Linked DNA regions of Homo sapiens: regions 1 and 3 are each linked to region 2. Evidence: fine-mapped expression QTL. A gene starts in region 2. Each other region holds a variant in brackets. All regions are shown on one strand. Distances are from middle to middle.

The links. PIP is the estimated chance that this variant, and not a neighbour inherited with it, causes the effect.
Region 1: its variant is fine-mapped to the expression of NUP210 in whole blood (INTERVAL, PIP above 0.99).
Region 3: its variant is fine-mapped to the expression of NUP210 in nasal epithelium (TOPMed, PIP 0.94).

The regions. Positions count from the first base shown.
Region 1 is chr3:13,309,262-13,319,632 of GRCh38, forward strand. It overlaps NUP210 (nucleoporin 210), which reads right to left. Exons shown (of 40, transcript NM_024923.4): 38 at 9,969-10,064; 39 at 9,811-9,894; 40 at 6,974-8,520. The coding sequence ends at 8,420. Among named protein-coding and RNA genes, the nearest start is that of NUP210, 110 kb to the right of the region's middle. The variant C/T (reference allele first, on the strand shown) is at 7,174.
Region 2 is chr3:13,414,753-13,425,414 of GRCh38, forward strand. It overlaps NUP210 (nucleoporin 210), which reads right to left and starts at 5,570. Exons shown (of 40, transcript NM_024923.4): 1 at 5,308-5,570. The coding sequence starts at 5,474. RefSeq lists enhancers at 1,713-1,862, 1,923-1,992 and silencers at 4,785-5,354, 5,405-5,804.
Region 3 is chr3:13,326,206-13,336,867 of GRCh38, forward strand. It overlaps NUP210 (nucleoporin 210), which reads right to left. Exons shown (of 40, transcript NM_024923.4): 27 at 10,582-10,662; 28 at 9,249-9,407; 29 at 6,088-6,179; 30 at 4,255-4,429; 31 at 2,566-2,741; 32 at 1,012-1,232. Among named protein-coding and RNA genes, the nearest start is that of NUP210, 89 kb to the right of the region's middle. RefSeq lists enhancers at 660-1,161, 1,162-1,661, 5,889-6,248, 6,569-6,618 and a silencer at 4,554-4,721. The variant G/C (reference allele first, on the strand shown) is at 6,188.

The DNA.
Region 1 (10,371 bases), 110 kb before region 2:
TTCTGTTGGTCCAGTGAGTGGCAGAGGGGACTACTGCTAAGAAACAACTCCTGGAGAGGTGTGTCACGGTCCCCAAGAGACTGGGGATGGCTTCCCTGGACCACCCAGGAAGACAAAGGAAGAAAAGTTCACGTTTATTGAGCATCAAATGTTTGCTCACCACTGTTGTGGGTTGTGGTGGGGGAAGGGGTGGTTCAACTCAGTAATTACGCCCACGTGGCAATGCTACGAAGGTCATATAATTACCATTTTGCAAACAGGGAAACTGAGGCTCAAACATGAAGGTTCCAAGGTCATCCAGCAGGTGAGTGGCAGAGGCAGGATTTGCTTTGCACCTGGGCCCCATCCACCAGGTTCGCTGGCCGCTGCTCTTGCCCCCCGACTCTCCCCCGTCCACTGAGAAAGACCCCAACAAGGAAGCTACTATGCTTGAAAGCAAGGAAGCAAGGGGTCTTTCAGATTCCACTTTCCAACTTTCCTGGTTCTTGTCAGTGGTCTTTATGGGCTTTCAGTGAAGCCTCTCCAAATGGAAGTGGTCGCCTGATGAGCTATGAAATCTTCCGCAGAGGTTCATTTGCTAATTACATACAACAGAAAACTTAACAACGTGATAGACGATCACCCAGCCTGTGACCTCGGGTTTTGCTTCTTTTTTTTTGAGATGGAGTCTCGCTCTGTCGCCCAGGCTGGAGTGCAGTGCCGCAATCTCGGCGCAATCTCGGCTCACTGCAAGCTCCGCCTCCCGGGTTCACACCATTCTCCTGCCTCAGCCTCCTGAGTAGCTGGGACTACAGGCGCCCACCACCACGCCTGGCTAATTTTTTTGTATTTTTAGTAGAGAAGGGGTTTCACTGTGTTAGCCAGGATGGTCTCGATCTCCTGACCTCATGATCCGCCTGCCTCGGCCTCCCAAAGTGCTGGGATTACAGATGTGAGCCACTGCACCCAGACTTACTGATGCTTTTTAACAATAAGAGTTGCTTTGGAAAGATTGTCTCCAACTTTATAAAAGTAGTAGCCTATGAAAAGAAAAACAAGAGCCGGGTGCAGTGGCTCACTCCTGTAATCCCAGCACTTTGGGATTCCGAGGCAGGTGGATCACCTGAGGTCGGGAGTTCAAGATCAGCCCGACCAACATGGAGAACACCGTCTCTACTAAAAAAATACAAAATTAGCCAGGCGTGGTCGCGGGCACCTGTAATCCCAATTACTCGAGAGGCTGAGGCAGGAGAATTGCTTGAATCTGGGAGGCGGAGGTTGCAGCGAGTTGAGATCGTGCCATTGCACTCCAGCCTGGGCAACAAGAGCAAAACTCCATCTCAAGAAAAAAAAAAAAAAGACGAAGGGCTAGAACGTAGAGGTTAAATGAGACAAGTTATAATAGTAGTTTTTTTCTGTCTATTTTTTGAAAAACAAAACAAAACAAAACACACCTTGGAAGCCTATGAGATCATGCTAACAAGAGCCTACATTGAGTAGTAGGCATGGGGGTTTGTTAAATTATTTGTTGTACTTTTCTGTTAAAAGTTTTTTCTTTTCCTTTTTTTTCTTTCTTTTTTTTTTAGATGGAGTCTCACTGGACTCACTGCAACCTCCACCTCCCGGGTTCAATCGATTCTCCTGTCTCAGCCTCCCAAGTAGCTGGGATTACAGGCGCATGCCAGCACGCCCAGCTAATTTTTGTGTTTAGTAGAGACAGGGTCTCACCAAGTTGGCCAAGCTGGTCTCGAACTCCTGACCACAGATGACCTGCCCACCTCAGCCTCCAAAAGTGCTGGGATTACGGTGTGAGCCACTGCGCCCGGCCAAAACTTTTTTTTTTTTTTTTTTTTTTTTTTTTTGAGATTGAGTCTCGCTCTGTCGCCCAGGCTGGAGCGTGGTGGCGCGATCTCGGCTCACTGCAAGCTCAGCCTCCTGGATTCATGCCATTCTCATGCCTCAGCCTCCCGCGTAGCTGGTACTACAGGCACCCACCACCATGCCTGGCTAAGTTTTTGTATTTTTAGTAAAGACAGGGTTTCACTGTGCTAGCCAGGATGGTCTTGCTCTCCTGACCTCGTGATCCACCCACCTCGGCCTCCCAGAGTGCTGGGATTACAGGCGTGAGCCACCGCACTGGGCCCAAAACTTTTTTCTTATAAAAAAAATTATGAGACATTTTTTCTATGTTAAACATTGTTTATCATTTTTTTATTAAAAATTATTTTTAATAAAAAATTATTAGTAGTGGTGGTAGCAGTAGTAGAGACTCTGTCACCCACCCTGGAGTACAGTGGCTCCATCACAGCTCACTGCAGCCTCAAACTCCTGGCCTCAAACAATCCTGTCTCAGCTTCCTGAGTACCTGGGACTACAGGCATGTGCCACCACACCTGCTAATTAAAAAAAATTTTTTTTGGCCAGGCACAGTGGCTCATGCCTGTAGTCCCAGCACTTTGGGAGGTTGAGGTGGGTGGATCATTTGAGGTCAAGAGTTTGATACCAGCCTGGCCAACATGGTGAAACCCTGTATCTACTAAAAATACAAAAATTTAGCCAGGCGTGGTGGCAGGTCCTGTAATCCCAGCTACTCGGGAGGCTGAGGCAGGAGAATCACTTGAGCCCAGGAGGGAGAGGATGCAGTGAGCCGAGATCGCACCACTGCACTCCAGCCTGGGTGACAAGAGACTCCGTCTCAAACACCACCACCACCACCACCACCACCACCAACAACAACAACGGCCGGGCGCGGTGGCTCACGCCTGCAATCCCACCACTTTGGGAGGCCAAGGCGGGCAGATCATGAGGTCAGGAGTTTGAGACCAGCGTGGCCAACATGGTGAAACCCCGTCACTACTAAAAGTACAAAAATTAGCCACGTGTGGTGGTAGGCACCTGTAATCCCAGTTACTCAGGAGGCTGAGGCAGGAGAATCACTTGAACCCGGGAGGTGGAAGTTGCAGTGAGCCAAGATTGTGCCACTGCACTCCAGCCTGGGAAACAGAGTGAGACTCCGTCTCAGAGGCTGAGGCAGGCGGATCACCTGAGGTCAAGAGTGAGACCAGCCTGGCTAACATGGTGAAAACCCATCTCAACTAAAAATACAACAATTAGCTGGGCGTGGTGGTGGGCGCCTATAATCCCAGCTATCGGGAGGCTGAACCAGGAGAATTGCTTGAACCCGGGAGGCAGAGGTTGCAGTGAGCTGAGATTGCACCATTGCACTCCAGCTTGGGCAACGAGAGTGAAACTCCGTCTCAAAAAAAAAAATTTTTTTTAGAGACAGGAGCTCCCTGTGTTGCCCAGGCTGGTCTTGAACCCCTGAGCTCAAGTGATTCTCCTGCCTCGGCCTCACAAAGTGCTGGGATTACGGACATGAACCACCACTCAGCCAAAAAATTATTATTATTATTATTATTTGTTTTTTGAGACAGAGTCTTGCTCTGTCGCCCAGGCTGGAGTGCAGTGGTGTGATCTTGGCTCACTGCAAGCTCCGCCTCCCGGGTTCACACCATTCTCCTGCCTCAGCCTCCCAAGCAGCTGGGACTACAGGCGCCCGCCACCACGCCTAGCTAATTTTTTTTTTTTGTATTTTTAGTAGAGACGGGGTTTCACTGTGTTAGCCAGGATGGTCTCGATCTCCTGACCTCATGATCTGCCGGCCTCGGCCTCCCAGAATGCTGGGATTACAGGCATGAGCCACCGCGCCTAGCCAAATTTTTTTTTATAAAAAGTTTTTGTTAATTTTTTTTCTTTTTTTTTTTTTTGAGATGGAGTCTCGCTCTGTCGCCCAGGCTGGAGTGCGGTGGTGCTATCTCGGCTCACCGCAAGCTCCGCCACCCAGGTTTACACCATTCTCCTGCCTCAGCCTCCTGAGTAACTGGGACTACAGGTCCCGTTACTCAGTCCCACCACCACGCTCAGCTATTTTTTTGTATTTTTAGTAGGGACGGGGTTTCACTGTTAGCCAGGATGGTCTCGATCTCCTGACCCTGTGATCCGCCGCCTTGGCCTCCCAAAGTGCTGGGATTAGAGACATGAGCCACCGCACCAGGCCTTTTAATTTTTTATGAAAAGCATTTTTCCTTATAAAAAATATTTTTCTATGTTAAAGTTTTTTTTTATGTTAAAAGTTCTTTTTTTTTTTTTTTTTTGAGATGGAGTCTTGCTCTGGTGTGATCTTCGCTCACTGCAACCTCCACCTCCCAGGTTCAAGTGATTCTCCTGCCTCAGCCTCCTGAGTAGCTGGGATTACAGGCACATGCCTGGCTGATTTTTTTAGTTTTAGTAGAGACCGGGTTTCACCATATTGGCCAGGCTGGTCTTGAACTCTTGACCTCAAGTGATCTGCCTGCCTCATCCTCCTAAAGTGCTGGGATTATAGGCGTGAGCCACCATGCCCAGCAAAAGTTCTTCTTTATGATTATAAAATAATTCATGAGACAGTCCACAGCTGAGCTGGTCTGAGGGAAGTGGGTGCAAGGCTCCCACAGTGGATGCCCCTACCCAGGAGGGCAGAAGAAGGTACACATCGGGGGAGCAAACTCTGGTGCCAGTCAACCAGGATTTGAATCCTGGTTCTGCCACTTGCCAGTGTGTGACCAGGCGAGTGGCTTCACCTTGTGGGCCTCGGTTTCACCATCTGTAGGTGGATGGGCCTGCCTCCTAGGGCTGTGGCGGGGATGAAGTGAGCTGGTGACTGGAAACGCTCAGCATGTGCTAGCAGGTGGCGTGCAGGAAACAGCGGCGGCTTTGAGCATTCACCCTGCCTCTCGGCTTCTTCCAGCCATCTACACGGATCTACAGACTGCTGGGAACCATGCTGGTGGCCAGAGGTGGTTCTGTCAAGTTGGCTTCATTTGGCGCTGGCCCAGGTGGCTTGGAGTTGGCTGAAAGGAGTGGTTTGGAAGAGACTGAGTCAGCCCTCTCTGTTTTCTGTCCTGTGGTCCCTCCCTTCAGCCAATTCTCCCCTGAGCTGTGTCTGGTGGGCACTCTCAGCCTGTTCTGAGTTTCAGCCTCCACCTGCCCCCCTGAACCCTGCTCCTCTCCACACTGACCTGAGGCTCAGGATGTTCCAGAAAGTAGAACCCAGAGTTGGGGAAACCCAGAATCACATTCCTTCATGGGGGTTCATTCATGCATTCATTCCACAAACCATCCTGAGAACATCCCTCCCACTGTGGCCCTGCCATAAGGCTGCAATGGAGAGTGAGGCTGGGCAGGATGGTTTCATGTGGGCACAGGACTCACAATGATGGAGCGATGTGTCCTGTGGAGCCACATTCCCATCCACCCCCATAGCAGCCTCTAGTGTGTGGCTGACCACACCCTTGCCCAAAGAAGGAGATGGGAGCGCAGGAGGGGGCAGGCCCAGCATCGCACAGCCTTGCTGTGCCCTGTCCTCAGAGGCTCCTGACTGGGTGCCTGGCTAGGCCTGAGGCCAGGGATGCCCAGGACACCCTGTCCCAGCAGGATGGGCTGAGAGGGCCCACCAGACAGCCCAGAGGGAATCCACAAAGGGAGGGAACATGAGAGACGGAAAACATCTGCCTTCACTGGATTCAGCCAGAAGGGAACCATAGCATGTTTCTTACCTGTCACAGGTTGCTGCAACACTGCTGCCTACCACGCTGTCCCCAGGAACCATCACTCTTTTCATAGCCGTGGGCTGCAGGCCAGGTGATCCGGGATTGGCAGGTCCCTTGCAGGTGTCCTTCCTCCTGCTTGGACCTGCAGCTACCTGGGCTTCCTGATTACTACATCAATGGCAGGGGCATGAGGAGGGTGAGGGATGCCCAGCACAGACCCATGGTCCTTCTCACCCATGCCAACCAAAGCAAGTCACATGACCACACCTAGCCTCAATGGGCAGAAGGAACTGCAAAGGCATGTGGGAGAGGGCGTGCACAGAGGGAGGCTGAGGGTCTGGGGACAGACCCTCAGGAAGCACCTGCTTCCTGCTGGGAGCCACTCTGGGCAGGTGGTGGGTAGGACACATGTCAGGAGGGCCCTTTTGCAGGTGAGGAAACTACTGTGGCCCAGAGAGATAAATTTCTCTCCAGCCCCAGAACAAAGTGGACCTAGACTCCTGGTCACCTGATTGCTAAGCTCTCACCAGCCTAGACCTGTGCTACCCACCCCTGACACCCCAGGTTCAGTGCTCCCTGCTACTGAGTGTTCGCAGACTTTGTGATGTAACATTTCCAGGATGCGGCCGGGCACCGTGGCTCACGCCTGTAATCCCAGCACTTTGGGAGGCCGAGGTGGGCGGATCACGAGCTCAGGAGATCGAGACCATCCTGGCTAACATGGTGAAACACTGTTTCTACTAAAAATACAAAAAATTATCCGGGCGTGGTGGCGGGCGCCTGTAGTCCCAGCTACTCAGGAGGCTGAGGCAGGAGAATGGTGTGAACCTGGGAGGCGGAGCTTGCAGTGAGCTGAGATCACGCCACTGCACTCCAGCCTGGGTGACAGAGCGAGACTCCATCTCAAAAACAAACGAAAAACAAAAACAAAACAAAACAAAACAAAAAAACATTTCCAGGATGCAGGAATGCACATGTAAGCATGCACAAAGACACACAGAGAAACAGAGAACGAGAGTTCACTTTTGGCCAGACTTAAGAATTCTAGAGAAAAAACAATCTATATGATGTACTATATTTTTAGTGCTAAATGGTGCTAAAAGCCTTTTCTGGCAACCATTAGAGACAGAGAGTTGCTTGGTTAGCTTGGGAGCAGAAAGCTGAACTGTGTGGCATCACCTGGTTTTGTCAATGTGCCTTCTTGGGCACACTCACTTGCTGGCAAGATCTGGCTGCGTCCAGATGCACTTGCATTTGCCAACCTGAATGTGCTTGAAAATGATGCTCACCCTTTGGGGAGAATAAAGCTCAGACCTCCAGCTCTGCCAGGCCCCAGAGTATCATAGATGGGTAAAGGGAAGAAATCATCACCATCAGACAGAAATCTCAGCAACGATCACACCCTCTTAAAAAATCACATAGAACTTTATTAAATAAACCAGTAGAAAGGCTCCTATTTACATCCAGGTTGTCAGTTTAAGCTCAAGTAATATGCAAGGCACAATTCTTCCTTTCTCCAGCTTTAGAAAAATCAACCACATGGCCCAGCCCTGAAGGACTGAAGGGAGCTTGTGCGGGATCCCGTCATCCTGGACTCTCCACACAG[C/T]GTCCACGCATGGATGGCCATGGGCATGAGTCTCTGGATCTCCCTGAGGGTAGCCCAGCCTCGGCCTGGAGCACAGGGGCCTGTGATCTGAGAATCTCAGATCCAGAATCAGGAGCTGGGAAGAGAGGACTTTTCCAAGGGTCTCCTCCCCCAGGCCCTGGGGAGTCCCTTCTGGATGGGCAGGCCCTGGGCTGGCGGCCGCCCTCCATCATTGGCCCAGGCCGGGCTCTAGGGCCTGCTGGGAAGCTGTCTGGGGCCCTGCGCCTGATGAGCTGCCATGAAAGTGGCCGCCTCTCACACTGGCAGGCGGTGGCTCAGATCTGCTGAGGTTCTGGAGTGGCACAGGAACAGGAGGAGCAAATGACACTGGGTCTTTGTGCTGAGGCAGGACACAGCGGCTTTCCGAAACACACACACAGAAAATATGACTCCTGCTGCCATCTCAAGGACATTTTCCTAAGGACAGTCCTGGTGTCCTGATGGAGTGAAAGGGATCACACGTGGGATGTCCCAGCAGGGCCTAAGCCAAGTCCATCAGATGTCTCAACGGCTTATGAAACAAAAACAGAGGACTGAAGTCTGTTCACAGTGGCCCATGGTTGGGCAGCAGCCCTGGGTGAGCTCCTGTGTTCTCCAGCCTCTCGCTCACCCAGGGCTTGGCTATCCTGGCCTCCAGGTGCTGGTTCCTGAGGCTTCCCTTGCGGCAGTGGCGCAGATACAGGGACACTCATGTCCCATTGCTCCTCAGAAGTCCTAGCAGCAGCCAGACTAGGGGCAAAGTAAGTTTTCACAGGGGGAAAAACCCCACCAAAAACCCCCTAAAGTAACTGGACAATCCTTTCCCTGAGACCACTACAGTAACATCACCCACAGACAACTTCTAAAGAGCACTTCTAACTGCTCAAAGTCTTGAGAAGGGAAAGATTTTAGCAAGGCTAGGAAAATAAAAATGCAACAGCACATTGTCCAGAAACCCTAGACAACCATGCAAAAAGGAATGAGCCAAAAAGTCTTAGCTTTGTAAGACTTGAAAGGAAAAAAACACACATTTAAAACTCCTACATAAAATGAGCTAATGGGCAGAGCCGAAACTACAGCTCTGTGTGAAGAGACGGCAGTGAAGCTGGCCTGGGGCCGGGGCACTCATCTGGAGGGGCTTGTTCCAGTGTGAATGCAGCAGGGATGTTCCATCTTGGGGGTGCACGAGGCTCGGCTGAGACCCATCCTCCGGGAACCTTCACGCGGCCTAGTGGGAGGCATAGGCTGGGCTCCACAGCCCTGAGGGAGGGCTGGCTTTGCGAGCAGGAGGCAATGCATTGGGAGATGTGGGTGATGAGGCAGCGAAATCTAGGGTGGGAAGAGAGACGATGTTAGCAGCAGAGCCAGGGAAAGCGGCGCACTCTTCAGTTACAGCCAGCATTCAGCAGGCGCCTGCCTCACCCAGGACACTCTCACAGTGATGCCCCGAGGCCTCCCCGGCCAGCAGAGGGAAGTCCACGGGCACCTGCTGAGCTGGCCTCATTCACACAGAGAGGCCTGGGATGCCACCCTAACACCCAGGAGCGCAGAGCCTTCCGGGGAGAACGTGTCTCAAGTTTCAGGACCACAGCAGCATCTGTCCAGGGGGCATGAGGCAGGGAGGCCCCGTGCATCTGAATGCAATGCAGCCTCGGGCAAGAGCGCCACAGGAACAAAGACCCCGAGGGGAGCAGCGATTCTGCAGTGCTCCGGAGACCTTGCAGAGATCCAGGTGTGGCTCCCAAAACCCAGGGAGGAGCACGCTGAGAGAGGCAGCTAGAAAGGGCAGGCACCTGCTGCCAGAGCAGCTGCAGAAGGCAGCAGAGCCGCGAGGAGGCCGAGCACCCGTGGCCTCCCCTGGGTGCCGCTTTGCAGGTAGAGAAGTCGTCAGGCAGAAGACAAGGGCGTGTGGGCTCTCCTTACCCAGGAAAGTGCTTCTACCCACACAACTGGGTCTTCTTTCAAAAAAATTCAGGGACCCCCCTGAAGCCGGTCCATGGGCCCCCATGTCAGCAGACACGAGCTCGAGGACTCTTTGTGTAGGGGAGAGAACCCTCAAATGGGAATCAGGAGACATTAAAGGGCCTTCACGTACAGCAGTACAGGCTGGGCACTGCATTGTTTGAGAGAGAAACTACATTCACACAGTGAGGTGCTCCCTGGAGCTGTGCAGGGTCACCAGGGCTTCGGGGTCACCAGAGAGACAGTTAGACCATTGAAATAAATGACTTTGCCCATTCTTCTGGGAAATTTCTCATCAGAACTACCCAGAATCCCCATCTGTGAGTCAGCTCGTCCAACCCCAGCTTAGAGCCTTCTGAGGCAGCCTCAGCAATTGGGCATCCAGTCCTAGCATGCACTCCTGCCTAGACAGAGCTCCTTGCTGCCCATACCTCCACCCAGCATGGCTCTACCTGGGGAAAGCTCTTGCTGAACCAGGACTGGCAGCCCCTCTGCCCCGACCCTCCTGGCTCCCACATCTGTCCTCTGGGCCTCAGGCTCCTTTGGCCCAGGCAAGGGCCTGTTGAGACTTAGGGTTCAGGAGCCTCGACCCCTCCCCCAGGGCTCTTCTCTTTCTCAGCAGCTCTGCCTGGTTGTGCCTGCAGGGGGGCTACTCACAGTGGGGGCTGTGTCCAGGGCTGGCTCGAGGCGTGAGGGCTGCAGGCACAGCAAGATCCCGGGGCGTGCAGACAGTGTGGTAGGCTGCAAGAGCACAGGGTTGGTTAGAGCAGGTCGGGGCAGGGGAACAGACCCAGAGATACAGGCAGCCTCCTCACCTATGATCATGACCGCTGTCCCAGCCAACAGGGCGAAGAGCGTGAAGAACATGACCTGGTAGGAATCCAGGAAGTGCTGGAAGAGGCTGGCTCCATCTGCCATCAATGGGAAGATGAGTTACCAAAACCACCAGGCCCACTGTGGCATCCCATCACGTTCCTGCCCTACTGTACGTCTACAGGGCAGTCCACAGGTCCCTCTTAGATGTAAGGATGGTGGTCTCAGAGGGCCAGGCCACCTGCTGGAGGCCCGGGCCCACAGCTGTTCTTGGTACCCTGGCACTTCTTCTCCTGGCGCAGGCTGCTGAGCAGAGGGGCACAGCCCCTGTGGCTGCCATGTTGAGAACAGATGGGAAAGCTGGGCAACTAAAGCCTGCATCATGGCCCCAATGAGCAGCGATCA
Region 2 (10,662 bases):
TCCCCAAAACACATTCCATGCCTTGCAGTTCTGTTTCCTTCAGGACTTACTCCTGCCTCACATGCATCCACAGATCTCATCTTAATTAACCGTTTAACTCCGGCAATCAACTGTGAGTCCCTGAGAGCAGGGCATCTCCTGCTGCTTCACTGTCACATCCCAGGACCTCAAGTAGTGCCTGGCTCATAGTAAGAGTCACAGACAGGTGGGTGTGGTGGCTCATGCCTGTAATCCCAGCACTTTGGGAGGCTGAGGCGGGTAGATCACAAGGTCAAGAGATCTAGACCATCCTGGCCAACATGGTGAAACCCTGTCTCTACTAAAAATACAAAAATTAGCTGGGTATGTGCCTGTAGTCCCAGCTACTTGAGAGGCTGAGGCAGGAGAATAGCTTGAACCTGGGAGGTGGAGGTTGCAGTGTGCCGAGATCGTGCCACTGCACTCCAGCCTGGCAACACAGCGAGACTCCATCTCAAAAAATAAAAAGAGTCACAGACATTTGTCACCTCTTATTCAGTGACTCTCCAGCCCTCCTCGGTGAAATATGTGTCGTCCATCAGTGCTTGTCCCCTGGTGCTCAGGCAGGACGGGTCTTCACCGTGTGCCCTCTCCCAGGCCCTGCGGGAGCTCTGGTTTCTCCACCCCACTTTCTAACTGCCAGAAATGCCATCAAATAGGCCCAGATGATAACGCAATCGACCAAAGCCTGTGACTCTAAGGCCAGGCATAAGGAAGGAGACAGAGATTTGGCCTAGGTGTGTGGGGATGCAGCATGCACACAAATTGAGTGGTACAGGGGAAAACACTCTCAACGAAAAGAGCAGAAGTACAGGTGTGGGCTCAGGGAAGGCCAAGTGAAGGAGGTACAGAAGAGCAAACTGGGGGCCTCCCGTCGAATTCAACTCCCTCTTTTGGGTTGTTTCCACTTTGTGAATTTTTTATTTTGACTATGGGGCAACTTCTTACAGGCCCTGTTGCCTCACCTGTGCAAGTTTCCAGCATGTGACCTGCTGACGTGCCCGTCCCAGAGGCTCAGGGTCCCTGAGCCCAGCAGAAGCCAGCTAGGCCAGATGACACTCTGACTTGGCTCAGCGTGCATCCCTCACCCTTAGTGCCCAACTTCACCCACGAAGGCCTGTGAGGGGATTTGCTGCAGCTTCCCCTGCTGGGGCAGGGAGAGGGACCCAGGACATCCACACGCAAGGGTAGTGCTGGCCTCTGGCCTCCCACAGTCACCCCTCAGCAAAGAGGGACTCCCCAGGGGTCATCTGAACTGCCTGGGGTACAGCATGCCCCAAGGCCAAGCTCCACGGCATAGGGACCAGTGCCCTCCCTGGCCCTGAAAGGACTCCCATCTACCTGTTTGAGAATCCTTACACCTGTGACTGAGAAGTGCCCCAGACCACATAAGAGAGGGTGTACCCTGGTGCAGGACCAGGCCTGGCACACGTGTTAGATGGCTCCAAGGTGCCCAGGAGAGACTGTCAGGGGCAGGAAAGGAGAAGTCTGTGAACAGCTTGGTATGGCAGTCACTGTGCATGCTGTGTCTGGATGTTGTTCACCAGGCAGGTCCACATCCCCTCCCCACCTCAGCCAGGGGAGCTGCAGGTCGTAATTCAAAACAGAGTGTCTCCGCCAGAGGCCCGGGAGGTCGCACAACATCCCCTTCCCCAGGGGAACCAATGGCTGCCTGACAGTGGGTACAAAAGCTCAAAGCTTGGTCTCTTCGCCTGAAGGCAGGACAACCTGCAGGCAGCCTCCCTTCCCTATCCAGCTGCCCAACAGAGCACTTTCTCTGTAAACTAGGGCAGCAGAATCCTGCCTCAGGCTCCACCCCTGGGAAACCAATCTGAGCCACTCACTTTCTCCAAGACAGCGCCCCCTTGCTGGAGCACCCAGAATACCCTGGGACTCCATGACAGGGAAAGAATCAATGAGGAGGCAACTTCAACCCAGCAGAAAGGTGCTCAGACACGGAGCCCTCAGGAAGAAGCAACAGAGCAGTGCTTGGGCTTCAGTGCTAGCCAGTGTTGGCAGGGGAGGAGGTTCCCGAGGTGCCCAAATAACCAGGTTCAAGGCAATGTAAGAAAGGAGCTAGGAGAGGAAACATAAGTGACCGAAAAGAAACCAAAATGCTGCCTGTGATTGTATTACAGCTGGAAGATTATGGCATGATTTCTTTTTCGTCTGTTCTCCCAGTTTTTGATATGAGGTCGTTTTGTATATACCTTTAAAAGGAGCAAATGTAATATACTTTATGGAACACTTTCAATAATGCAAAATATCTAGAAGGAATCAGGAACTTGTCACAAAACCAGTGCTGGCTGGGTGCAGTTGGAGAGAATTAGAGCCTGGCAAATTAGCCAGAGGCTGCCAGTCCCCAGGTCTAATGGCGTGGGACAGGGAGGGGTCCCAGCAGCTCCTGCTCCAACTCAGTGTCCATCGCTACAAGACTTCCCAGAGATCACTTCCCCTTCTGGAGCTCAGGTTTTCCTATATGAAACACAGGCTGTTTAAACTAGGTGACCTCTAAGGTTCCCCTGGCCCGAAAACTGTCCAATTTTGATGTTATAAAATAAAAAAAATAGGAAAAGTAAACATGAAGCTGTTGGCTCAGGCACACACAGTGATTTCTGTAAACTTAGAGCTCAGCTGCAAATTCAATGGATGTGCAAATGTTCCCACAGGGTCTGGCAGAATTCTCATTTTCTTTTTCGTCTGAGAGACTTAACAATGAACTTTCTGGATGAAGAGGTAATGTTCCTCCCAGGTTTAGAGGACTGTGGATATATGTCTATAGGCCAGCTCTTAAAATCTCCAGAGCAGATTCTTCAAAACTGCAGCAATAGACGACTACACTAGGAACAGCAATACTAAAAATAAAGAAAATATTCTCAATGCTTGATTGACAGAATGTCTTCCTGTCAAGTTAAGGGGGAATCACAATTTCCAAACACCTCTGAGAAGACACTTTGAATAGCAGTCACACATCTGCAGTCACACATCTGCAATACAAACTACAGATCAACGCCAAACACGTTATAAGGTACTTAGCACTTCTCTGATGCATCAGAGATTAAGAATGTTTTTTCCCTTTTTCCTACCAAGTAAATTAAAATCCACCAACACCCTTCAGCTCCTCTCAGAAAAGAAAATGATGTTGGGGGGGAAAAAAGTGTTGTTAGTTTAGAAAAAGAAAAAAGTACAGCTATAGAATCTCAGAGAAAGTAACACACAAATATATCCAAAGGGATTCACTTGAAGCCAGCTGTTTTTAATAACCAGTTTCCTCTTTCTTGCCCACATACTGAGAGGACAGACAGCTTCAACAAGAGAATGAGCATGTATCCCCGCCACAGTATTGACTAACAGCTGATTTTCCCACACAAGACTAGGCCTTAGACTGGGATACAGAAAACCTAATGCCCAAGTTCAGCCTCTGGCATCAGGCCAGAAATAGGAGCCTCCAGGTGCATAAAGCACTAAAACCAAAATGCAATGGGCTGACCTAGTACGTCTTGATTTCAGGAAGGAGACCTTCAAAAAAGAAATAGGGCAGGCCGGGTGCAGTGGCTCACGCCTGTAATCCCAGCACTTTGGGAGGCAGAGGCGGCGGGATCACTTGAGGTCAGGAGTTCGAGACCAGCCTGACCAACATAGTGAAACCCCATCTTTACTAAAAATACAAAAATTGGCCAGACAAGCCAGGCATGGTGGCTCACGCCTGTAATCTCAGCATTTTGGGAAGCTGAGGCAGGTGGATCGCTTGAGGAGTTCTCCTTGGTCTTGAGGAGTTCAAGACCAGCCTGGCCAACACAGTGAATCCAGAGTTTGAGACCAGCCTGGCCAACATAGTGAAACCCCGTCTCTACTAAAATGCAAAAAACTAGCTGGGTGTTGTGGCGGGCGCCTGTAATCCCAGCTACTCGGGAGGCTGAGGCAGGAGAATCGCTTGAACCGGGGAGGCGGAAGTTGCAGTGGACAGAGATCGCGCCATTGCACTCCAGCCTGGGCAACAAGGGCTGGAGTGCACTCTAAAAACAAACAAACAAACAAACAAAATTAGCCAGGTGGCCTGCACCTGTAATCCCAGCTACGAGGCGGGAGAATCGCTTGAACCCGGGAGGTGGAGGTTGCAGTGAGCCGAAATCGCACCACTGCACGTCAGCATGGACGACAAAGCAAAACTCCGTCTCAAAAAAAAAAAAAAAAAAAAAAAAAGAAAGAAAGAAATAGGGCAAATAGTGCAAGCAACAGAGAAAGCTGGCTGGTCTGAGCTTCGGGCATCACACTTACATACACGCACAGACTAATACTCAAACAGGCTTGACACACACATGTCCAGGCTTACACACATGGCTGTCACGTGGTCACACCCCGTTCTGCCTCAACCTTGACCCAGTCTTGAAACAGAAATAAAGGGAGCAACTACTGAGCATCCTGGGGGTGGGAAGGGCGGAAGCCCATCTTTTCACCCCTAGGACGGCTGGGCTGGGAAGCTAAGGGCGCTCAGTCGTGCCCACGCAGCCTTGCCAGGGGCAGGAGCTCCATTTCCCCTGGTCTGCAAAATGGAAGGGCTGGACTGCACCGCCCTGTCAGTGTCGGTCTCTGGTTTCATGGGTCCCTGTGGTTCCACAGGGTCACACTCCGCATCCGACCCCTTGGAGAACTCCCAACCCGAGAGGGAGGGTGATGGAAATGCCCTGAGCATCAGGACCCGCGCCGAGGCAGCCTGAGGGGAAGCGCCGGCCTGCCTCGTCTCACTTCGCCTCTGTAAAGCGGCCCCTGGGCTTCCCTCCAAAACTCCTTTCCTCCAGGGTCTCCGTTCCTCCCCGCGACGCTAGGCGCTGCGCTTCGTTTCACAGACTCACTTCCCACGCCAGGGCGAGGGCGGTCACAGACAAACCCGAGCTGGGGTCCCAGACTCAAGGGAAGTGCGGCCCAGCTGCCCCGGCGCCCCCTCCCGGGTCAGGCCGGCTCGGGCCCGGCCGGCTTGGGCCCTGCGGTCCCAGACGCCGCTCCCCAGGCCACCCCTCCTCCCGCACAACCCAGAACACGCGGGTCACGGCCGCCAGGCTGCGCCCGCTCTGCTCGCGCCTCAGCGGCGCGGAGGCCCGGACGGCGCCATGACATGAGCAGTGGTGGCGACCCACGCGCACCCGCCGCTCCGAGTGCTGCAGCCTAGCGCCCAGCGAGAGCGCGCCGCGCACCTGCCGGCTCTGCCGGCCTCCCGGCGCCCGCCCAGCCTCTCAGCGCGAAGGCCCAGCCCGGCCCACGGCGCCCGCCCGGCCCGGCCGCGCGCCTCACCAGCGGTAGCAGCCCTCCGAGGCCTCCAGCGTGAAGTTAACGCGCGTGGCCCGCGTGAAGGGCAGCAGCACTTTGGGGATGTTGAGCTTGGCCGCAGCGGCGGAGGGGCCCGCCGCCAACAGCACCGACAGCGTCAGCAGCAGCAGCCCCCGGCCCCGCGCCGCCATCCTCGCCGCGCGTCACCTCCCGCGACCCTGCGCCCGGCCGCCCGCGCCGCCCCGTTGCCCTCCGCTCCCGCCCGCGCGCGCGCCAGGCCAGCAGGTGATGAGCGCGGGGGCGGGGCGAGGGCCGTCGGCGGCCGCCGCTTCCTGGGCCTGAGCGCGGGAACTCTGGGGGCCGAGCTCGCGGCGACCCCACCCCCAGCCCGGCCCTCGCGCAGGGACGCGGGGCTGGGGGATGGGCGCGCGCCCGGGCCCCCGGAGCTGAGGGAGAAGGCTTGGGGCGCGCCCGCGGGGACCCCTGGACCCTAGAAGTCCCAAGGGGGAGCCCCCGGGGCGCCCCGCAGCACGCATCCCGCCCTGGTATTTGCCCCTGGCGGTGGAGCCAAGCCGCCGGCTTTGGACCTTGCGCTCTGGCCCGGACCCACGGTCAGCAAGGAAGGGACACATGCCCCAGGACATTTGGGATGCAGAAAACCGGCGCCTGCCTTGTCCCAGCCCATGCTTCCCAGAAGAGGGACCCCGGGCTCGCAAAGGGAAGCCACCTGCTGAAGCGCTGAAGGCCCGGGGCCCGCTCCCCCTCGACCCCCTCACACCCTTTCCAGAGAGGCCTTAAGATTCCCATTTCTCCAGGAAAAAACCGGTTGAATGGCCCCCAGATCACTCAGCCAGAGAGCCCCAAGCTCTTGTCCTCCGCACTGCACCCCCTGCGGAAGCCATTAGAGGTTACCTATAGGTCATTTAGGGCGCCAACGCTGCCAGAGCACAACCCCCTCCACGGCCCCCACACCCACAAAAGAAAGTTTAGCACCGCGGAATCCACCTGCACACCAATGGAAGGCCTTAGATTCCGCGCTGTGCTCTGTGGCTTTTAGCTGTCTGTCGTGAATTGCATGAAGGCATGCGTCAGCAGGCACCTGACTGCTTGGTGCCGCTAAAATATGAATCTAGCCTTGCAGAGAAGGCCCAGCCTAGCGGGAGGTCAGGAAAGGGTGGGGTGAGGGTGCACTGGCCGGCTGTCTGAGGAGTGCAGGAAGTGGATGCTGACTGTAACCAGGAAGACACACAACGATGCCACTGGGTGACCAGGAAGGAGAGGATAAATGTCAGTAAGGCTAGGAAGGCTTTTTGGAGGCGGCGGCCCCTGGGTTGGGCATAGACACCGCACTGGGCTTCAGCGAGGCCCGCATAGGCTGAGCCTGCCCCTCAGGGATCATGGGGCTTTTGGATGGTGATGCGGGGTGTTTGGGGTCACCCTCGAAGCCTGAGGGCCCTAGACCAGGGAATGTGTGTGTTGGGGGAAATCTCTGGAGATAACCAGAACTAAGGGGGTGAGGGTCGGCCCTGTGTGGAACCAGGTGCTCTGGGAGGGGAATTCCAACGGGCTCCCTTTGAAGAAACAAAAAACAGACTTGCGCGGAAAAGGCAGCCTCAGAGGGTATTTGTGAGGAAGTCTGTGGGTGTCTTCTGGGTTGCACAAGATTGATTTGTTTTCCAACAGGTAATCCAGACAGATGGTTGAAACTTAGGCTCAAAAGGGTTCCAAGTGAAAGTGATTCCTCTCCCTCCCCATCACCCAATACCCTTCCCTACAGGCAATGAGTGTTTCCCACTTGAGTATACATCCAGAGAAATTTTATGCATAAACAAGCATATATATATATAAAACATGGCACACATGCACACACATACACATACATGCACACACATATGTATATATGAAATATGGCACATATACATACATATACATATGTCTTGCGAGGCAGGTAAATCTCACTCTTGGACATATATCCTAGAGAAATGAAAAGTGATGTTCCCACAATCACCTGTACATAAAACATTCATAGCAGCTTTATCAAATAGGCCCAAACTGGAAACAGCACAGAGGTCCTTCATGGGTGATGATTAAATACTGTGGCACATCTATGCCATGGAATATTATTCAGCAAAAAAAGAAATGAACTGCTAATACATCCATCTTGGATGAAGCTCCAGGGAATTATACGGACTGGAAAACAAACACTACAAAAGCACAAAAGGTTACATACTGTAAACTTGCTTTTATACAAGATTATTGAGTTGGCAAAATTATAGAAGTATAGAGCAGGTGAGTGATTGTGGGGTCAGGGGCGGCGTGGCATAGGAAGTGATGTGGCTATAAAAGGTCAACATGAGGAGTCCCTGGGATGGAAGTGCTTGGTGGCTTGACTGTATCAATGTCCATTTCCTGGTTGTGATATTATCCCATAGTTTTGCAAGATGTCTACTAGTGGAAACGGGGTAAAGGGCACATATTATAGCATCTCTCTTGTTATTTGTTACAACTGCATGTAATCTACAATTATCTCAAAAAAAGAATCATACAAACAGGCCCAGCAAAACACATCTGAGTGGACACAGCTTGCTAAACAACTACGTTTCAGGTGATTTAAGGCAATCAGGAAATTTTCCCAGCAGAAAACAATCCATGGAAGACAACAAAATGGGCCGGGTGCGGTGGCTGTCACCTGTAATCCCAGCACTTTGGGAGGCCAAGGTGGGCAGATCACCTGAGGTCAGGAGTTTGAGACCAGCCTGGCCAACATGGCAAAACCCTATCTCTACTAAAAATACAAAAAGTCGCCAGACATGGTGGCATGCATCTGTAATCCCAGCTACTGGGGAGGCTGAGGCAGGAGAATCACTTGAACCTGGGAGGTGGAGGTTGCAGTGAGCTGGGATCAAGCCACTGCACTACAGCATGTGCAACAAGAAACTCCATCTCAAAAAAAAAAAGGCAACAAAATGATGGGTAAAACATTTTCCATCTGAGATTTTATCCCTTTACGTTGTCCTTAAACTTGCCCCCAGACCCCATTTCACTTGCCTACAAACCTGGTATGAGATGGTATTTGGGGCCAAGCCAGGGGTCCATGTGTAGGGGCCACCCCCACCTTCTCTGTGGGCTGTTTCCACTCCCTGGCATTGGGCCCCTTCTTTGGGTGTCAGTGTTTATCTGAGATGCAGGGAGCCAGCCATGGACAATGGCCTGAGCACAGCCTTCTGTCCTGGCACAGAGACCCTCTGGGCTGGAAGAGACCACAGATTTGAGTGAGCCGGTTACCCACCTGATAACTAAAACCAGATAGGAAAATGTCTCCTGACCCACATCAGGGTCTCCCAAACTTCTGTTACTTTCTACCACCCTAAAACATTTTAAAAAATAATATCTATCTGAGTGCCACTTGTGCTGTTATTTCCTGTCTTTAAATCAAAGTGTTTACATATATTTACTTAAGAAGCAAACTTTGTCTCTTCTGTTAATAAAAAGCCATTATCAGTTTGCAAAATATAATAGAAGTAGCCATAAAATAAATACAGCGAAACAAAAGAATGCCTTCAAATTACCGCAGGATACTATTTCTTGCTAAAGGCTGAGAGCCCAAGGCCTGCTCTCAGGGCCTTCAGTGGGAAGATAACCAAACACAAGACAGTGTGAAGGACAAACCACACTAATCTTGACCTTTCTCCTTGGGCATACAAGTATGGAGAGATTTTTCAAGGCAATTAACTTTTTCCTAGGGGGACGTTGTCCTTTTAGAGCCTACCCACCATCTTTTTGTGACAACAGTAATTTTTATTTGTATTTCATTTATTTATTTATTTTTGAGACAGGGTCTCTCACTCTGTCACCCAGGCTGGAGTGCAGTGGTGCAATCTCAGCTCACCACAGCCTCTACCTCCTGGGCTCCAGCCATCCTCCCATCTCAACCTCCTGAGTAACTGGGATTATAGGTGTGTGCCACCACATCCAGCTAATTTTTGCTTTTTGTTTTGTTTTGTTTTGTTTGTAGAGACAGGGTTTCGCCATGTTGCCCTGGCTGGTCTCGAACTCCTGGACTCAAAGGATCTGTGCCCCTTGGCCTCCCAAAGTGCTGGGATTACAGCCATGAGCCACTGTGCCCAGCCCAAACAGTAATTTTAAAGAATCATTCTGCAGTGGGGAAACTTAAAGAGTCATAGAGTAGACAGTGGTATAATGAAGCCCCATGACTGTCCAGTTCTGTGGCCACAATCCACAGCCAATTCTGCTGCTTCTGCAGTCACCACAGGCCCCACCCTATCTCATTTTGAAACAAATCCAAGATATCCTGTCATTTCGTCTGTATTTCAGTTTGTATCGCTAAGAGATAAGGACCCTTTTATAGACATAACCACAATACTATTATCACACATAAAAAAGTTAACAGTAATCTTATGGTCATAAAATATTATTAGAGTTCAAATTTCCAACTGTCTCATACATTCATAATACCTTTTTACAGTTTATACTTTCAGAATCAGGATATAAGTAAAGTTCACACATTGCAATTGATTGAAATGTCTTTTAAGGCTCTTTCAATCTATAGGCTTCCTTCCCCATTTCTCCTTTTCTCCCTGAATTTAAATGTTGCCCTTTGACCTCTGGAGTAGACATTTGTGTTTTCAGACACCCCCAAGCTGAGTCCCCACTAGCCTGGGCCCTACTGCAGCAGCAATGGGGGTTTCCGCCTCTCACAAGTCTGCCCCCAGGCTTTGGTCATGGACTCTGGAAATGGAGGAAAGGGACACCCACTGTGGACCTTCAGCACCACCTCTGAGCTGGAAACCTTGGCTTTGGGCAAAACAAAAAAGAAGTAAAACACCAGGAGCACTGGAATGGCTTCCACCTTTGCAAAGTGCTTTCCAAAACCCCATCATACTTAAGAGAATGGCAACACTTAATTACAGAAATTGCTGCTCAAGTCAATGCCCAGACATGCCTCCTGCTCATGGGGCCCATTTTCTGGATGCGTTTACTCTTCCTCAGAATGTGTTCCTCACACTTGCCACCTTCAGCCTCTGCCAGGATTGGCAATTGTTTGCTTCCTGTGGGCCCCTGGGTCCTTCCCCACAGGCATCACTAGAGGATGATGGCTGCAGAATAAGTGATGGCAGCCAGCTTGTCACACCTTCAGCCTGCCTTGGAAGTCCAAGCGCACGTGTGTTATCCCAGCCACCTCAATCTGATTCCAGCAAACCTAGCTGGATACACAAGGGAGTCCTCAGACATCACCAGGCCACCAACTCTGCAAGAGTACAGGCTCTCTACTCCTTGCTTTCTAGAACTACCAACAGCATGATCCCTTTTCATGATGGTTAATTTGTGTGTGAACTTGACTGGGCTAAGGGATGCCCA
Region 3 (10,662 bases), 89 kb before region 2:
CTGCCTGGAATCTCCTGACCATCCTGGCATGAAGCTTTAGCTGACTCCTGCCCAGGAATGGTCTGGTGCTGCTGCCAGGCCCTGCCCTCTGTAGCTCCTTCCCCAAAGCACAGCCCCTCCCCATCCCTTCGTTGCCTTATCAATTCCTTTTTAGCAACAGACAGCAGGTGTGAGGCTCAGAGCTTTCACCACATACACATCTGAGTTAAAAGCCAATCACATTATATAATAAGTACAATTAAAGGACTCAACCATAATCTATTTATGGCAAATTATATTTGTTTTTCCTTAAAGGTAGTATTTCATCTCCTTTTAAAATGAATTTAGTAAGGTTAAAAAAAAAGGTGGAGACAATTTGAAAATAAAAGCTAAGTAAATAATTGTACACGTGTTCCACAGATGTACTACAGGTCACCTGGGCATGGCTGAAATTTGGAAGCCCCTGATTTAGCCCAGTGTCCTTCTTTGCTTAAGTCTCCCAGCCTGTGCTGTCCACTATGGCGGCCACTTCCCACAGAATTCACTAAAATGGTGAATTCAGTTCCTCAGCAGCAGCAGAGATCCGTGTGTCTCCTGGCTAGAGGAACTGAGTGAGACTATGCAGAGACAGGATGCCCCACAGGGGCAGGGGACCCCCCCACCGACTTGGCAGAGCTGTTCCAGAAAAGGGCTGGCAAATGCTTTCTGTGAAGGTCGGACATAAGCATTTGGGCTATGCAGCCCATACAATCTCTGCTATGACCACACAATCTGGCAGTGGTAGGGTGACAACAGCCACTGACCATACATAATGCATGGCACAGCTGAGTGCCAACAAAAATTTACTTGCAGAAAACAGGCACAGGCTGGATCTGGTCTCCGGGCAGCAGTTTTGGAGCACTGCTCCTGAGTATCCTGCAGGTCTGCCTGTAGGCCCCCGTGACTGGTGCCGAGCCCCTGCCCAGGTAGCCCCCACCCAGCTTTGCAAGCGTCCGTGACTCCACAGGTTCCCTTGCTCAGGATCTATCTTACCTTCCAGGCTGGTCAGAACAGTGGCCAGACAGAGCACGTCCCCCACCACCATGGCCCCAGACAGCTCTGGGGAGATGGCCTGTAGGACAGGCAGGGGCATGAAGTCCGAGAGGCCCGGGTGCTCTGCGTCCCACACACGGAGCAGTGTCAGGCCCACGCTGACTGTGCGGACAACGCAGGTGTTGTTGGTGGGGCCCTTCCCGATCTGCACAAAGTCGTCTCTAGGCACAGGAGAGAAAGGAGGGCTCTCAGTCTCGGGAAAGAAGCTTCCAACTCCCAAAGGGAGAAACGTAATCCATGTCCTCTGCTGAGCAAAGCATTCAACTGACTGAGGTCCCAGGTGTGGCCCCAACTCGAGGTTACCAAGCAGTGGCCCCAGATGAGGGACCACTGCAGGCAGGTGGCACAGGCTCGACCTCCTCACTTGTCATGCCAGAAAGCACATGCAGCTCGCAGCCAAACAGTGGCAGCAGCATCATTCCTGCATTTCAGAAAGGAAGCTGAGGCCCCGAGGGGAAAGAGATCCAGAGTGCTTCCTCACGCTCTTCCCACCAGGGAACTGGACATGCCAGAAAGGGAAGGCTGCCCTTACTATGCAACCTGACTGCAGAAGCAGCCTCTGCCCCTTTCCTCCTCTGAAAAATGGGGATCATCACGTGACCGTGACGCAGGCCTGGCATAAGCATTACATGAGGTCAGCAGTGGGGAGGCACCTGCCACAGGGCAGGTGCTCAGTCAATGTTGGCAATGGCAGCTTTGGTGCAGAAGTGTGGACTGCGTGGGGTGACAGTTTGGGTTAGGGATCATGGCTGCATCCTTGCCTCCACCACACCTTCTGACCCTGAGTGCTGACTAGGTCTCTATCAGGTGCTCCTGCTACAAGAAGGCCAGAATGACCTGCAGTGCAGCCAAAGGGCTGGGAGAACTGGGCTCCATTTCCTCCAGGACATGCCCTAAACTGATGGATGGCAATTATGTGCGCACACACGGAGTGCCATGGTTTGCCAGCGGTCCTCATGACCACTCCCTCAGCTGAAGGAAAGCCCTGGAACCTAGGCCATATTGCCCAACGTGAGAGGTGTGGAAACAGATTTTTGGATGGTGACCTACTCACAGGGCCCACGAAGGGCAGAGCTGGGGCTAGAACCAGGCCTGACTCTAAACCCCAGTTCTTTCCATAAGGCAACACCCCTGACACCTGTCTTTGAATGCATTCAGCAACAGGGAAACACAACTGTGGCAGGACCTGTGGGCAGCCGAAGCTGAAGGGCCAATTTCCTGTGCCTCGGGGAGCACTCCCTGGAGCTGCCCCATGCCCTGTTTCCTCCTTTGGGGGCTGATGCCTGTCTGTCTTCCTCTGAGCTGGTCTACATCCCCCAAGGGCAGTGGTGTTTCCTCGTGGCCCTGCATGGTGCAGCATGCCCACATCTCTTGGAAACTGAAGTAATACACATCTTCCTTCAACAGCAGCAGACTTTCTGTGTTATCCCCAGTTGTCTCTACCAGGTACCAGACAGGACTTCATAGGAGAAATGACCCTTGCCCACATCCTACCTGTTAGTGGCAAAGTTGAGGACCGAACTGTGAGCATGGAAGACATCTCCAGAGTTGTCGTGGAAGTGGACAGTGAAGGTCACGGTCATTCCCAAAGGCACGGCCACCAGGGCCTCCTTGTTCTGGGTGTGCAGGACAGGGCTCATGGAAACCCTCAGGTAGGAAACAGGGGATACCTAAGGGACAACATACAGGTATGATGAGGATTCAGTGCCAGGGACTGGCCTCCAGGAAAACCCACCTCCCAAGGAGGGGACACCTGCCCCCAGCAGGATCCACCTCAGGAACAATGCAGGGCTGGACTTAGGGGTCCTGAGAGGAGTAAAGGCCACACTCCCCAGAGTGTCCCAACCTAGTGACAAGGTTCTTACTTCCCAACACAGCAGACTGGCCTCTCTATGAGAAAACCCACCCAGGAGTGTCCCAATCCATGACTTGAATAAATGAGATCACTATTTACATTGCAAGAGGGCCCCCTGGGCTGCAAATGTCCAGTTTCTTCAGAGAACCTGGCTCTTGGGGCATTTAAAGAAACGAAATCCTCCTCGATCGCAGGGGCAGCGCTAAGCAGGCCACAGCATGCCCTGCAGGCCACCAGGGGAAGGAGGGAAATGGGGATTTCTGGAGCCCAAGAACCCGAGCTCCATAAACAGCAGCCCTTGTTTCTCTGAGTCCAGGTGAAAATCTATCCTCGCTCAAAAGCTAGTGCTCCAAAGGTCTGAATTTCTTTAACAAAGTTCAGTGGTGCAGTGTCTGGTATACAGCTAGTGCTCAGTACATATTTGTTGAAATAGGATGAGCAGTCAGTCACTTTCACTCACCAAAAACTAGAGCGGGGGATTTGCTGCCAGGCACCCATTTTGAAACAAAATGATGTGAATTAATGAAAGAGGTCTGTGACCCAGGCAGAGTCTAAAGATTTAAGTGAGTGTGTGTCTTCTGTCATCCAGGGTTCAGCAAGTGGTGATGATGAGACATGGAAAGAAAATTCCATTCAGCAAAACCCCAGGACCTGACCCAGGGATGCTGATGGAGAAGGTCCCATCCGTAAGGAACACAGAACGGCAGAGGGCAGTGCCATGATATGGCAGAAGGACACGGCCCAAACCAGACAGACCCCATCACTCAACCCCCATGCAAGCTTAAGCAAGTCACTCTCACTCTGAGCCTCAGTCTCCTTGTCTGGAAAATGGGCCACCTCATTCTCAAAACCACAGTGGATGTCACGTACTGGATGTCACGACTTGTATGGCAGGTACTGAGCACAACATTCAATGCTCTTAAGAACAGACCATGTTCCAGACACTGGGCTGGCCCAGAACAGGAGCTCCACCATGGGTGGTGATAACATCAGTGGCCAGGCACAGTGGGTGGAGCACCCGCACTCCAGTCAGGAAGCTGTGGTGCCAGTCCCAGCTCTGTAACCTTACGCCAATCATGGACCTTGCTGGGCCTCATCTATGAAATGAAGTTCTTGGAATCAATGATTTCCCAAGGATCTTCGGCTCTGATGACCAGAAGATGCTGTAGCTTTTTATCTACCTAGGACCTTTGCCCCTGAGTTACTCTAAATGCCTGTCTACAGTTTCTTAGCTGGAAGGTGAACGTATTCACTTTTACACCTGAGAGGCATATTACCTCAGTGCTATTGCTTTCATTACTCCAAAAAGGAGGAGAATGCAACCCTACCTTTACAGCAACAATGATGGTTTGGTTGGCCCCAAAGGGCTCTTGTGCAATCACTTCGATGGTGGATGTCCCGATCATAGACCCTGATGCTAGAAAGCCTTTCTCATCAACATGCACAACTGGAACCTTTTCGGGTCCATCCAGGACGCGGTAGCTCAGAGAGGCTGCACCATCCCTTTGGAAAACAAAACAGAGCTGTTTTTGTAGATGGCAGCAGTGGGAGTGGGCCTGGATACAATGCCAGGAGATCTAAGAGTCTGTGGCTCCTCATGCTCCTGGGAGGAAAAAAGGCCCAATCTTGGCCCCACGGACCTCAGGACCACGTGCCGTCAGTTGTCTGAGGCTTCATCAGTCACCCACGGAAAAGTAATTCAGAAATCCAATGGTTCCGAGCAAAGTGTGGCGTCTCACTCTTCCCAGAGCAGTGCCTGCCGTGGGTCAGCCAGCAGGGAGGGAGAGACTATGAGGGCAGTTTCTTTCATCAGCTCCATGGGACATCTACTGTAAAATATCATTTCTGCAGCAAATTGTTCTCAATTTACTGAAGCAAGGCATCCTGGCATAGTGGAGGATGGGGCTTTGAGTCCGACAGAATCCAAAGCCGGTCCCAACATGTCCTGCCACCAGCTGTGTGCACATTATGTCCCCTCTTCTCTCGGCGTTGACTTCTTACTTGGTAAAAGGTGTGTAATGATCCTGTCTTGTCCTATTTCTAAGGACTGTCAACAGGATAAAAACAGACTACCCGCTAAGAAAACTGTTAGCAAACTACTGATACTATGTACTGGGTAGGAAGCAAATTATGCCGTATCTGTTACCCTTTTACATATTTATTAATATAATAAAGAAACCCAGGAAGCAAAGGCCTCCAGCTCCCACGGCTAGTTTCCATCATCTCTGTCTCTTCCACAGCCCTATAGATGACTAGGAGCAAATGTTATTGCCTCTGCCTAAACATTCTTCCCCCACCAACCCCTTCCTCTTAACCTGGGGAACTCTTATTCATCCTTCAAGAACTGCAGCCCGAGCATCTCCATCTGGGACATGCCTCCCCTAAATCCCCATGGACAGCACCCTTCTTTGGGCTCTGGTTTGAATACTACACCTTGCTTTTTAATAGCCTTCTCCTGCTACCCTCCTCCGGGGCACCCTATGTCACCCATATCTGTGTTCCTGGAGCCCAGCATGGAGCCTGGCACTTTGTTACTTTTGGCTGAATGAAAACATGTATGTGTTTCATGCAACATGTAAGTGTCCTGTGGCCCGTGGAGTCTCCCGCTTGGCAACTGCCATTCAAATGCAAGCCACTGTTACGAAAGGCATCCCCTTGGAATCAAAGGTAGGAATTAGGTTTGCAGAAGAGCTTTAAACAGCTTTTCCCAAGCGTTACTGTGCGGCCCCCTCGCCTGGGGATCTCCCTAGGGTGCAGCTTCTCCCTGGGCAGGTCTGGGGTGGGGCTTGAGAGCTGCATCTTCTCTTCCCGGTGATGCTGATGCTTCTGGCTCATGGGCTACACTCTGAGTGGCAAGTCTTGAAACACAACATTTCTAAGCTGGTGTTTTTTTCCCTTTTAAAGACTGAATTTTAGTACCTCGCATAAAAATGTTTCTAGGCTACAAGGAGGAAAAAGAGACCCACAGTGAGAAGTGATTTCAAGAAGCAGAGGAGCACCACAGAGAAGAGAAGGAGCAGGCAGAGGCCTCACCCATTCCAAGCACAGCAGGAGAAAACCTCCCTGAAAGTACCCATGGCTCCTGACAGTGTTGACACATGAGGTGTCGGATGCAAGCACAGCCGCACAACTTTGCTGGAAACAAGAGCTGAGTCACGTACCTGTTTGTCTGCAGCTTTATATATGAGTTGGGCGACATTAATATTTGTTCTGCTTCTATTTCAGGGTTGAGCAGCTGCAGCTTCTCAAACACCTGCAAGA[G/C]AGGGCAAGTTTCACTTCCGATGGGGCACTGGAGTCACATTCAGGCCAGATGTCTGCTTCTCTCCTAGCAGCAAGAGCCGAGGAGGGGCCAGAGAGGAGAAAAGCGGCTTTCTCGTCTGTCAGGTCACTGATGACATGATGTGAAGGGCTGACCTTTAAGAGGCCAAAGGTGTGGCCGGGTAGAGTAGCTCAGCCAAGGCAACACAGCAAACCCTCAGTCTCTACAAAATAATTTTAAAAATTAGCCAGGCATGGAGTGTGCAACTGTAGTCCCAGCTACTTGGGAGGCTGAGGCTTGCACTCCAGTCTGAGCAACAGAGCAAGACCCTATCTCACACACACACACACACATGGCCAAAGATATGATGAGAAAAGACAGGCAGGCTCATGTTTGTGTAGTCTAATGGGAGCTCCTTCAAGGAGCCTGGAAACACAGGCCTCTCCCTCCGTGCCCAGTGAGGAAGAACTTTACCTGCCAGGATGTGAGCGCGGAGGGCAGCACACACAACTCCAGCACCAGGGTTTGCTCAGGATAACTGTGCCAGGACTGAGCCTGGGCAAGGTGCCACCGAACTGCTCCCTTCTCTCACAGAGACATCCTGCTCCTCACTGCCACCATCTCAGAACAACCCCCGTTCCACCTCCCAGGCTCCTCTGGCTGGCTCTGGCCATGTTCTTGCAGGATCCACATAGACACACACAGGGGCCTGGTGAGGAGCTCAGTCCGGCAAATGATCAGCCTCATGAGGTCGGCTCAGATCTGATCCTGGGACGCCCAAGTGCTCCAAGGCCCTGGTGGCTCCCCGAGCCCATGGCAACAGCACTTACCTGGGAACTCCAGGCCCCTTCTCTGCAAGACTTCAGATGTGTCCACCACCTGTGTAAGTCCCCTCTCTCAGGCCCCTCAGGGCTGCTGCCTCCTCGGCCTCCCAGCCTGGCTCAGGGGCAACCACTCGCTGGCAGGTAAAGCTGTGCCCTGAGCTCTCCACTGGCCTCTGATCAGACCAGGTGGACACCCCTCGGGCCTGAGCCCTGGGCCATGGCCAATATCATCGGATCTGACGAGTGATTCTCTGAGAGGAAGATGGCCTGATTCCACCCCTCCCAGCTCCTCTGTGCTCTGTCCACGTAAGCCTAGATTTCCTTGTGTGTAACATGGTCCACAACTAACGTCCTCTCCATGCCTGTCTTGAGAGTTGTGGGCTCCATATGAGGTGACAGGAGGAACAACACTTCCCAAACGGTGAGAAACAGCCTTTGGGAGCTGGGTGGGGTTTTGGCGTCAGGTGAGACGAGGCTGACTCGGATGCCCCCTTCCGGCATCCACACGGAAGCCACCTCACTGAGTCTGACTCGGACACACTTACTGCCTGGTAAATACATTCATAAATAGGATTCCTTCTATTTTTTTTTAAACCATGCATTCCTATTTTCTCTCTTTAGATGGAGGGGGAGTTGTAAGATATTTCCCACTTTCCTGTTAACTATAAGAAAAGCAACAGCATGAGCACCATGGTAAATGGCAACTGATACTTGATATCACTGTCAGGGAGAAAACAGGGAGTGGCGGGGCCTGTGGCAAACTGGAGAGTGCAGCTCTAATGGAGTCAAGGTTGCTTCTCATTGCCTGCTGATTTTGCTGTGGCAGACACCATATCTTTAGGACATGCTGCATCTTAGATTTTTACCTGGAATCTTCCTATCTTTACATGACAACAAGCTGTCTCAAAGGCCTGAGTGAGCCAAATAAAACACGTTTGTAGGCTGGATCCAGATTCTCTAGTTTCTGATTTACTCAAACTCTACCTGCTGTCAGATAGGGAAACAGAGGCACAGAGCTGCCAAGTGACCCAACTGAGGTTACAGAATTTGGAAGCTGCAAAACCCTGCCTTTAATTCCATGATAGGCTCCAGGACTTACTTCCTTTTAACAAAGAACATGCATTTGGTGAGTGTGGGGATGTGCATGTGTACCTCTGTGTTGTATGTATGTGTCTCTATGTATGTGTGTCTGTGTGTGCATGTGTGTCGTGTGTGTGTGCATGTGCAGGCAGGGGTGAGGGGTTGGCAGATCGGTGGGGGTTTTTTTGTGGGTGTTTCTTTCTTGAAAAGTTTGCTTCTTTGCCCCTGATCAGGGAGGTGCTTGGGTTAGACATAGTTTATTTCTTCTTGAGGCGGGGACTAGAAACTGTTTCTTTTCTTGGGACATATAAGGAACACTTTTTGTTTTTCTTTACAGCTTAGGAGCACCCAGGGGTTACTGAGGCCCAGAGGAGCAGAACGAGGCCCTTGAAGACAAAAATGCTCTTCAGAGCCAACTTGCCAACTCTCCACCTTGCAGAGGGGCCCAGAGGGGCAGGAACTCGCCCACAGCCCATCCTATAAGTAGCAGGGACAGGCTGGATACAGACACAGGGCTGCACCCCAGGCAGGAGAACCACTAGACGCAGTCCTGACCCCTGGCTCTGAACAAGGCGCCTCCCTCTCTGAGGCTGTTTTCCAAATGCAGACAGGGCACAGTCCCCAGGCCTCTTGAGGCCACCCCCAACTTACCCTGTGACCTTGACCCTCCCCGCCTCAGGGGCATCAGCAGGTGGCAGCCCCTGCAGCCCCTGCCCCGCAGGCTTCACCTGAGGACTGGAGGCAGCAATACTGAAAAACGTGCAAGGGCGCCCCAGCCTCTGTTGGGTGCTCTATGTGTGTTAAATAAACACAAACGATTAAATTATCAGCCACTCAGACACAGTGAGCCCCAAGCTCAGAATTCTTTGCTCTTTTGGCCACACATCAAGTGAGTTCCCACCTCCAGGCCTTTGCCAGCCCCTCCCATCCTGAAACATTACTCCTCTGTGAAGCCTTTGCTTGGCCCCACCTCTGGGCTCCCATAGCACCAATCACACCCGGATGTTTACCCCACTGCGATGGACCACTGTCATCCCCACGGACTGAGAGCTTCTCAGGTCTCTCAGCCCCTGCCCATGCAACATGTGGCCCCGAAGGAAGATTGGGCAGCTGGCACTTCCTCTCCCCCTTCCCTGTGGCCTTTCCACCTGCCTCCTACCTGGACTTGGATCTCATCCGAGAGTTCTCTGGCCAGGCCATACAGCTGCCCCGATGTGGGGTCCACAGCCTTGACCACCACCCTCAGCCCGGTCCGGCCTTTTACCCGGCCGAGCACGTTCATGGCAAAGTTGTACTGTGACGGGAGTCGGATCGACGCCTGGGAAGACATCAAACACGTTTTCAGGGGTAAGGCCCAGGCCCCTGTGTCCTCAAAAAGGCAGAGCCGGACAGTAGCCCCAGACCCCCCAGCCCCCCAGTCCTGGTAGCTGCTGGCCTGTTCTCAAGGGCTCTGCCTTCCTGCCTGGGTTGGGTCTGCTAACCCCAGAGCTGTGCAGACCCGGCTTCCCCAGCATGGGTGCCCGGGTCCTGCCCTGCCTGCATCGCACAACATGCACAGATGCATTTGGAAAACACTGGGCCCACCCACGTAAGCCAGGGGCCTTCATGACAGGATGTCCCTCAGACTTCAGTGCTTCTAGGTCACCCAGAGCGATGCTGGGTTTTGCAGTGTGTCCCTGCAGACTATTCTGTTTGGGGATATCTGCTAATAAGTCTCACTGTTTGTGTTCCATGGGAGCAATCTGGGGGAGCCCCCGGGCACCAGGGACAGGACTCTGTTCCCACTGGGTGGGGTCGGGGGGCATTCGTCCCACACTAGACAAGCTTCAGGCAGCCTTTAGGAAATCCTATCCCTGGGCTTTGGTCTCTTTCCAGGCCTCCATCCCCACTGTCCCTGAATCAGGCAGGGAGCGACCTTTCAAGCCACCCTCCACTTGGGTCCTGTGTGTCCAAGGCCCACCTGGGCTTGGGCCTAGAGTCACAGGGGCTGGTGCCCAGTACCATTTCCCCACTGGCTTGCTGGGCAACCCTGGGCAAGTCCCTTCCCGTTTCTGGCCTCAGTTAACACAGACAGACTTAGTAGTCTCCCTGGCACCTTCCAGCTCTGACATCTTAGGAGAAGCCAGGGCCCCTCGCTGGGCTAAGGGAAGGGGAATTTGGCCTCTGGGATGAACCAGGAGAAACCGAGGGCTGCCAGGCATCATCTCAGAAAATGGTCAGAAGCTGCAGACTCTGACCTCCCAGGACTTTTGTGACTTCCTCACACGGCTGCTTCTGTTGGGAGAGGCACCTACTCACCCCGTCTATGTGTTTAGCATTTGGGAGAAGGGAGTCCCGATGAGCCTCGGGAGAGGGAAGAAAGTGGGCGGGCCTCTCTAGGTGTGAGGGTGGGGACTTCCTGTGGGACAATGTGGCAGGAACCCTCCCTGCCACTCGGGGTGCTGGCCTGGGACAGGGGTGGGAGGTGAGCTCTGGAGGGGGTGGTTACCTACCTCGTGGTGCCGCCCTCGGAGGTCCAGGACGTCCCGCTTGGTGACAGACCAGTGGAAGGTCAGGCCTGGCACGGCATTGCC